2 linked regions of the Homo sapiens genome follow. The protein of the gene in region 1 interacts with the protein of each later gene in a pairwise test. Each region holds a gene or a part of one and is shown on either strand. Other genes may lie near its edges. The genes, in order: MPZL1 and DOK7.

What was found.
Region 2: the proteins of MPZL1 (region 1) and DOK7 interact in a two-hybrid assay, tested with the Homo sapiens proteins (one large-scale study listed by BioGRID).

The regions. Positions count from the first base shown.
Region 1 is NC_000001.11:167,728,309-167,732,110, reverse strand, and holds part of MPZL1 (myelin protein zero-like protein 1 isoform a precursor), read right to left. Parts: intron 1-3,802. UniProt on the Homo sapiens protein: Cell surface receptor, which is involved in signal transduction processes. Recruits PTPN11/SHP-2 to the cell membrane and is a putative substrate of PTPN11/SHP-2.
Region 2 is NC_000004.12:3,461,594-3,466,135, forward strand, and holds the start of DOK7 (protein Dok-7), read left to right. Parts: upstream 1-1,712; 5' UTR 1,713-1,782; coding exon 1,783-1,836; intron 1,837-1,912; coding exon 1,913-1,958; intron 1,959-4,542. UniProt on the Homo sapiens protein: Probable muscle-intrinsic activator of MUSK that plays an essential role in neuromuscular synaptogenesis. Acts in aneural activation of MUSK and subsequent acetylcholine receptor (AchR) clustering in myotubes. Induces autophosphorylation of MUSK.

The sequences.
Region 1 (3,802 bases):
TAGTAGTCCCTAGAGAGTACAGGGCAGCATCCCACAATCAAACACATTAATATCTCTGCGGTGAAAAATACAATTAGTCATACCAAATAGGATCACAGTTGTAAACAGTATCTTACTACTTCAGGTTGAATTTTGCAGCCAAAGAATTTGTATCAAACTTAGGAAAAAACTTAATTTTCAAAGTATTTGTGGCTTTGCAGTTACAGATAAAAAAACTGTGGACCTATAACTTGTTTTTTGGTTTATTTTTACTTTGTAGAGATGGGGTCTTGCTATTTTGCCCCAGCCAGTCTTGAACTCCTGGCCTCAAGTGATCCTCCTGCCTCCTTAGCATTTTCTGATCCCCCTTTTTTTTTTTTGAGACACAGTTTTAGGCTGGGTGCGGTGGCTCACGCCTGTAATCCCAGCAGTTTGGGAGGCCAAGGCGAGGGAATCACGAGGTCAGGAAATCGAGACCATCCTGGCTAACATGGTGAAACACCGTCTCTACTGAAAAAATACAAAAAATTAGCCGGGTGTGGTGGCGGCTGCCTGTAGTCCCAGCTACTTTGGAGGCTGAGGCAGGAGAATGGCATGAACCTGGGAAGCAAAGCTTGCAGTGAGCCGAGATCGCGCCACTGCACTCCAGCCTGGGCGACAGAGCAAGACTCCGTCTCAAAAAAAAAAAAAAAAAAAAGACACAGTTTTACTCTGTCGCCCAGGCAAAAGTGCAGTAGCACAATCTCGGCTTACTGCAACCTCTGTCCCCCAGGTTCAAGCGATTCTCGTGCCTCAGCCTTCCCGAATAGCTGGGATAACAGGTGTGTGCCACCATATCCAACTAATTTTTTCCATTATTAGTAGAGATGGGGTTTCATCATGTTGGCCAGGCTGGCTTCAAACTCCTGACCTCAAATGATCCGTCCACCTCAGCCTCCCAAAGTGCTGGGATTACAGGCGCGAGCCACGGCACCCGGCCCATTTTCTGGTCTTAAATCCATATTATTCAACCTGATTACAAATTAGCATCACCTCTGTTCATTATTAATCCATTCACCAATTTCATTAGTGTGCAAGGTTCAGCAAGCCTCACTGCAGTTCTTCTAAATTTGCAGTCACTGAAGAAAAAAAAAGAATTAAATTCCTAATAGCTGAAAATGATCAAGACTCAAAGTTCCCAAGAGTTAACAGACAAGTGCTAGACCTCCAACTTGTGGCAGACAACATGGCTACAGAACCTCTGTCAATGGGGCAGAGGAGCCAAGAAGAGGTACAAGGGAGGAGACTTTGGTTTGGATGCCTGGGCCTGTTTGGACATTCTGTAAGGCAAGCATGCCAGGAGTCTAATGGCAAAAGGACCTGCACAGCCTCCAGAGAAGAACTCATCTCAAAGGAAGAAAGTCAAGGCTTAGTGGCTTCTTCCACATGTAATGTGTAATGAGGGGCAAGGAACCATTCTGAGCCCAGTATGGTATCACTCAGTATAATGGATTCATGCTTGTGCTCTTGATAGCGGGAGAGGTATGAGTGAGAAGAACCTACAAGAACCACATCAGCTGACATGGTGGCTCATACCTGTAATCCCAACTCTTTGGGAGGCTGTGGCAGGCGGATCACCTGAAGTCAGGAGTTCAAGACCAGCCTGGCCAACATGGTGAAACCCTGTCTCTACTAAAAACACAAAAATTAGCCAGGTGTGGTGGCAGGCACCTGTAATCCCAGCTATTAGGAAGGCTGAGGTGGGAGAATCACTTGAACCAGGGAGGTGGAGACTGCGCTGAGTGGAGATCGTGCCACTGCACTCCAGCCTGGGCCATATCAAGAGACTCTGCCTCAAAAAAGAAAAGAAAGAAAGAAAAAGAAAAAAAAAAGAACATCATTAAAAATCCCTGAGGAGCATTTAGAGTATTGGGTGGCACAAACAGATTCTGCATGATTGGTGAGGATGGCTTCAACACGGCAGCTTTATTCCTCTTTAACAGAGTCAGCAGCATCAAGGCATGAGGGATCTTGGCACAAACATCACCCCAAAGAAGAAATCTGGATGCCCCAGGACAGCTAAAAAGCCACTCTGTAAACACTTAAGACATTCCAGAATCTTCCCCAAAATGTTTAGAGACTTTGAAGAAAAAATTCTATAATACAGCAGGGTGGTTGCAAACATGTGCTTTGGAAATTGAGTCTCAACTCTACCATGTATTAGCTGTGTGATCTTAAGACCCTTAAGTTACACAATCTCTCTGAAACTTACTCTTCTTATCTATAAAATTAATAAAAATAATTATTGCACAGAGCTGTGAGGAGTATATAAGTAAATCGTTTAGCAAAGGCGTGGCACATAGTAAGCACTCAATAAATGAGAGCAGAGCAGAAGATATAACATGAACCTAGTTCTATGCCCTAACTTCTAAGGGCTAAGAAACAGAAAAGGGAGAGGGAGAAGTTAAAACATCTCCCTAACTGCTCACTCACTCTCTTTCTCTTCTCTTTTCAGACATCTAGGAGATTTCAAATATTTGCATTTTACCACATTTCTCTTAGGAACCTGAGTCCTCTATCTATGCTTCCTAATTCTCAGCAACACCCTTTGGAAGAAAGTATATAGCAATGATAACCTGGACTTGACTAGAGAATAACTATTAGACACTGTCTGGCCACAGGGTCACTAGGTTCTCATTGAAGCTAAGCTGACAATATAACACCTTATAACTTTTCATCTTTTCAAGTTTACCAAGTGTTATCTGGAAGAAGCACATGATTATGTTAAATGTATATAACTCCACATTGTAAACTTAATGTTTGGAGAGAAAAGAACACATTTCTTAATTTTAATAACAGCATCTTTTTTTTTTTTTCTTTTGAGACAGGGTGTCTCACTCTATCACCCAGGCTGGAGTGCGATGACACGATCTCAGCTCACTGCAACCTCTGCCTCCCAGGCTCAAGCGATTCTCATGCCTCAGCCTCCCAAGTGGCTGGGATTATAGGTGTGCGCCACCACCCCCAGCTAATTTTTTTTTTATTTTCAGTAAAGATGGGGGTTTTATCATGTTGTCCAGGCTGGTCTTGTACTCCTTAGCTCAGGCAATCCACCCGCCTCAGCCTCTCAAAGTGCTGGGATTACAGGCATGAGTCACCATGCCCGGCCGATAACAGCATCTTTTAAAATGCACGTAATAAACTCCCCAGATCCTAAAGTAGAATATCAGGGTCCCAGTATGAAAAAATGTTCATTGCAAGTTCATCAAGGTCTGTTCAGTTGGTTGCAGCATGCTCCTAACAAAACTTAAGTCATAGATTTCATTCTATGGGGCAATCTTATCTGCAATACACAGGATAGGCAAAGACATACTGCATTTCTAACTCCAATCAATTAAACCTAAGTACTGGATTCAGTGTATCACTGTTGCTACAAAATTACTCAAGCTCTATGTTCTAACAATAAGATCAGAGGTATCATAAGGTATCACAGTTTCTAGAGACTCTGAGTTTAGAAGAAGAAACCTACTGAAGGAGGATTTATCAATGAAATCATCTTGGATAAAGGCCTAATGGGATCAAGAAAAAATTGTTAAGTGAATAAAAAATTACAGTAGCCACATGCATTGAAAAAGACAATGAATAGGTTGGGCACGGTGGCTCATGCCTATAATCCTAGCATTTTGGGAGGCCGAGGCGGGTGGATCACCTGAGGTCAGGAGTTCGAGACCAGCCTGGCCAATATGGTGAAACCCCATCTCTACTAAAAATACAAAAAAAAAAAAAAAAAGAAAGAAAGAAAGAAAAAAAAGAAAAAAAATTTGGGCAGGGCACGGTGGCTCAC
Region 2 (4,542 bases), on another chromosome or scaffold:
TGTCTACCCTCCGGCATCCTGTGTGTTCCAGGCTGTGTGGGAGCAGGTGCAGCTGCCAGGCATGGCAGGAGCCTGGGCCCGGGCCAGCACTCAGGAATGCAGCAGGGCCCTGCCTCTCCCTGTAGGGATAAGCAAGTGCCAGGCGCCCAGGGCAGCGGATGTGTCTGTGGCTACAGCCCCAACGGCCCCCGCCTCCGCACCGGCTGTCCTGGGCCAGCCCCTTGGGGGCCTGGGATGTGTGGGGAGCATGAATGGGGCTCTGTGACCCAGCAACTGTTCTGCGGAAGGCGGCTGGTGGCTGCACAGGTGACTGCGGGGGTGGGTGGGGGATGCAAAATTCTGCTTCCTGGGCCTGGTGTCCCCCGCCTTGCATGAGGCCCTGACAAGACATCACCGAAGCACCAAAGCCAACCCTTGTGGCCCACCGGAGACCTGTCTCTTGGATCACAGGGGCAGTGGGGAGGGGCGCCCAGGGCTCCCGATGCCTCTGAGCCCTGCTCTGAGGTCAGCCGATGTGGCTCAGTCCTGGCTGTGAGGCCTCACGCTGCCCTGATTCCATTTGCTCCTCAGTGCGAGGCAGACAGAGCCCAGCCTAGGGTCTGGATGGGATGAAATGAAGACGTCTCCTCCCTAACGGGACACTGTCTACCCCTTCCTTCTTCTCCCCCGAGAACCGTCAGCCCCGTGAGGATGGGGTCTAGGGTAGGGCATGTGGACGGAGCTTTGCTGTTTGTCCAGGTGCTTATCTTCTAGGGTGCCATCGCCCCTCCCCACTGCTGTTCCCGTATCTGCTGGGTGTCCCCAACCCCAGGGTGGTGGAGGCCGTCTCTCGGATGGGGCTGACACCCAAGGCACGGACCTGCCAGGTCCCCCAAAGCACATGGCCTCTCTGCAGAAGAACCTGGATGTGACATCTAATGCCCAGGCCAGAGCTTGGGGACAGCTGGACTGGAGCCACAGGGTCAAGGAGGGGGAGTCCAGAAGCGCAAAGTCCACCCAGCTGGGAGGGCTGCTGGCAGGTCCTTTACAAAGCAGGCAGCTCCTCTGCCCATCGGAGCCGGCTGGCCTAACCAGGGCCTGCTCTTGCCTGGGATGGGGGCAGAAGAGGTGGAGACCTGGGGCCCTGAGGCGGCACTGTGGGTCCTGGACCCGCCCACCTGCACTGGGGTCCCTGCAGGCTTTTAATGGGAACAGAAATGGAGGAAGAGACAGAGGCTGCCAGGGGCTCCCCGACCCCTACTGCCTGCCTGGGGAGGGGTCACCTCAGTGTGGGGGAAGCCTGGGGATGTGAGAGCATCCTAGGCCTGGGCTGCCTGTGGCCAGTCTGTTGTCCGGGTGTCTAGTGACCCCTGGGGTAGGGGCAGATGCCAGTCTGGGAAGCCGGATTGTTTGAAGACCAACTTTAAAGTTGGGAGCAGTGCCCAGAGCGGGGCCGATGTCTGCTAGGTGGTTGTCTCTGCTTTTTGAAAAAGAAGTCCCCGCCCGACCCCCGCCCCGCCAGGCGCTGGTCTGAGCGTCTGAGCCCAGATGGTGCGCTTGCTCCAGAGGGCGGGCGGCTCCAGTGGCCGCCGCGGGACGGTGGGGCCAGAGGGGCCCGTGGGGGTGGGGGAGCCGCCCGCAGGAGAAGGAGCCCCGCCCGCGCCGGCCCTGGAGTCGCCGGTGTCGCCGCCCTGCCCGCGGGCCCGCCCTCCTGGCCCAGCCCAGGGCCCTGCGAGCTATTTTGAAAGTGACCCTGGGCTGGGGCGCCGGGGCGAGCGCGGCGGCGCGGAACCATGACAGAAGATGACCGAGGCGGCGCTGGTGGAGGGCCAGGTCAAGCTGCGGGACGGCAAGAAGGTCGGGGCGCGTCGGGGGCGCGGGGGGGGGGGGCGCGGGCGCGGGCGGCGGCTCACGCTCCCCCCTGTCCCCGCAGTGGAAGAGTAGGTGGCTGGTGCTGCGGAAGCCGTCGCCCGTGGCAGGTGAGCGGGGCGGGCGGGGGACGGGGGGCGCGGGGGTAGCGACACGGGTTACCGAGGCCCGGGGCAGTAATGCCAGCTTGCCCAAAATCGCCGCCGCTGTCACCCCGCCGGGAAACCCGAGAGCCCCGTGCGGACCCGGACCCCCCGGCGCCCCTGGGAGCGCAGGTGGGGGCCCTGGACGGAAGAACCCTCTTTCCAGCAGGGCAGACTGAGGCCCGAGGGGCTGCCTGGTGGCCCTGTAGGCGGAGGGGACGCAGGCCCTGAGCCCCCCAGCAGAGCAGCAAGGGGCCCCCCAGAAGCAAAGCCCCACATACCTGAGGGTTGAGCTGTGCTTGTGGAAACGCTCAGAGCAGGGCCCCCGAACCCAGCCTCCAGGGGTGCTGCGTGGGTTAGCGCTGACCCTGGACCCCTCCCAGGCAGACGAGAGGCTGGGCTGCGGTAGGGCAGGGCAGAGTGACTGCCACATTGCTGGGGGAACAGTCCTCTGGGAGGAGGCAGGGGTCCCCCCCCAGTCCCCGCCCTGAGCCAGCACCCCAGCTTGGGGAGGGTCAGCATGGAGCCCCCAGGTCTGGCAGCCCAGGCCGCCTGCAGCGCTGGGCCTGTAGGGAGGGCTGAGCCGGGCCTGCAGCTGCTCCAGAGGACAGGTGCGGCAGAGCCGGCCAGGCCCGGGTCTGGGTGGGATGCTCGGCCTGTGTGCATGGGGGGCTGTACGCCAGGGGGCTGCCAGAGCACCCTCCAGGACGGGTGTCTGTGACTCCCAGGGAGGGTGTGGGGCAGGGATCCCTCCTGCGTCCCCTCTGCAGGGCCTCAGGTGGTCCTGGAGGAAAGCACTTCCTGCCTGCCTCCGCCTCCCCTTGCAGGGCCTGGACTGCACGCTGGTCACTTCTCCACTCAGCCCTCCGTGCCCAGACCTCCTGCCTGGAGCTGTGGGGGCACCGACAGAGCCTGGGAGGGCGTCTTTGTCCTCCGGGGCTGCAGGGGACCTGGTATAGGAAGGGATGGGGTCTGGGCAGAGTGAGAGGCCCTGCCAGGCTGGGGCGGATGACAGGCTTTAGTCAGCTGTGGCTGGGTCGGGGCCGTGGTGGGGCAGGTGATGCTTGGTGGATGGTGCTGGGCTGGAGCCGGTGCAGACCCTCCAGAGAGGCCGCATCCCAGGAAGGCACCCGGGACAGCAGCCCCCAAAGAGGAGTGTCGGGGGAGAAGTCTTTGTCCCTGTTGGAGGGATTTTCTTTCTGCATCAGACAGTCCCAGGAGGCAGGGCCTGCCAGCCTCAAGAGGGTGTGCTCCCCCGGCCGGTGAGTGCCTGAGTGGAGTGACAGGAGTTTGCAATGGGTCCCCCAGGTGGGACAATCTGTGAGTCTGTAGGTGAACATGGTGGCTCCCGAGCGTCTGCTGGGTTATCCCGTATCCTGCGCAGTTGAGATCTGCAGCCTTCTGGGGCTGGCGTGGGAGGTGATGTGGGGTAGTAGAAGGTGCCATGCCCCCTCTGGGTGGATGTTCATTCCAAGCCTTGAGGCCAGGTGTCCCTAGCACCCACTGACTCACTGGCCTGGGACCCATTGCTTTGGACACCTGCTTTCTGTGTTGGTCACTCCAGCAGCCCAGGGTTGAAACTGACACCCTGTGGGGTTGCCCAGAGGTCGGTCAGATGAGGGGATGGGACAGAGCGGAGTTCTCACGCCCACCTCCCCACCCTGACCAGGCCAGCCTGGCACCTCCTCTCCGCTCAGAGGCCCTGATGCCTCTTCCCCTGGCCCCTCATAAGCCTCCCTAGATGCTGCCCCCTTTGCCTTCACCCAGCTGCCTTCCCGCTCAGCGCTGGAGACCACCTCCCTTGTGGATGGGCCCGGCGTGGAGGGAGCAGGCCCCAGCCCTGGAGGAGCAGACAGCACAGACCCTGCGCTCCTGGTGTGAGGGAGAGAGGAAGGGTCCCGTCTGCTTCCTTGTAAGACAGGCAGGGTTCTTTTTGTTACCAGTGGTGATTTCCTTCTGGGAAGGGCCCCGATGTGCACCTTTTCCACTGGCACCTTTCTCCTCCTTGCGTTTTTCTCAATCGTGAGCACGTCTTTCTGTTATGACAAGGTTTAGCGAATGAAAGGGAAACCCTTTTATCAAAGGGCTGCTCAGCCACAGCGCCTGGCATGGCCAGTGGACGTCGGGCCGTCTGCCTCGGTGTGGGACTGCAGGGTGCCCTGCAGTGGGACCACGTTCCTCAATGTCTCCACCGCGTCCTCACTGCGGAATGCGTGTCTGCGTCCCCTCTCTGGGCAGGGCCCCGGGGGAGGAGGGTGGTCTGTGTCCAGTTGTGGCCCAGGACTCACTGCTGGTGGCCCTGCATGCCAGCGGCGCCTGGCCCAGCCCCTCTCTTCTTCCTCCCAGGTGCGGGGGCTGGGGGTGGTGAGGAAAGTGTTCTTGACATCCTGTGGAGAGTGTGGCCCCAGGCCAGACACTTGAGGGGGCCTGCTTCCCACAGGGGCTGCCCCTGGGGGCTTCATCCAGCTCAGAAAAGCCACCGGGAGGGCCCGAGTCCTGGAGCTGGCAGGGTCTTGGAGTCACCATGGTGGGGGGAAGCTGAAACTCAGAA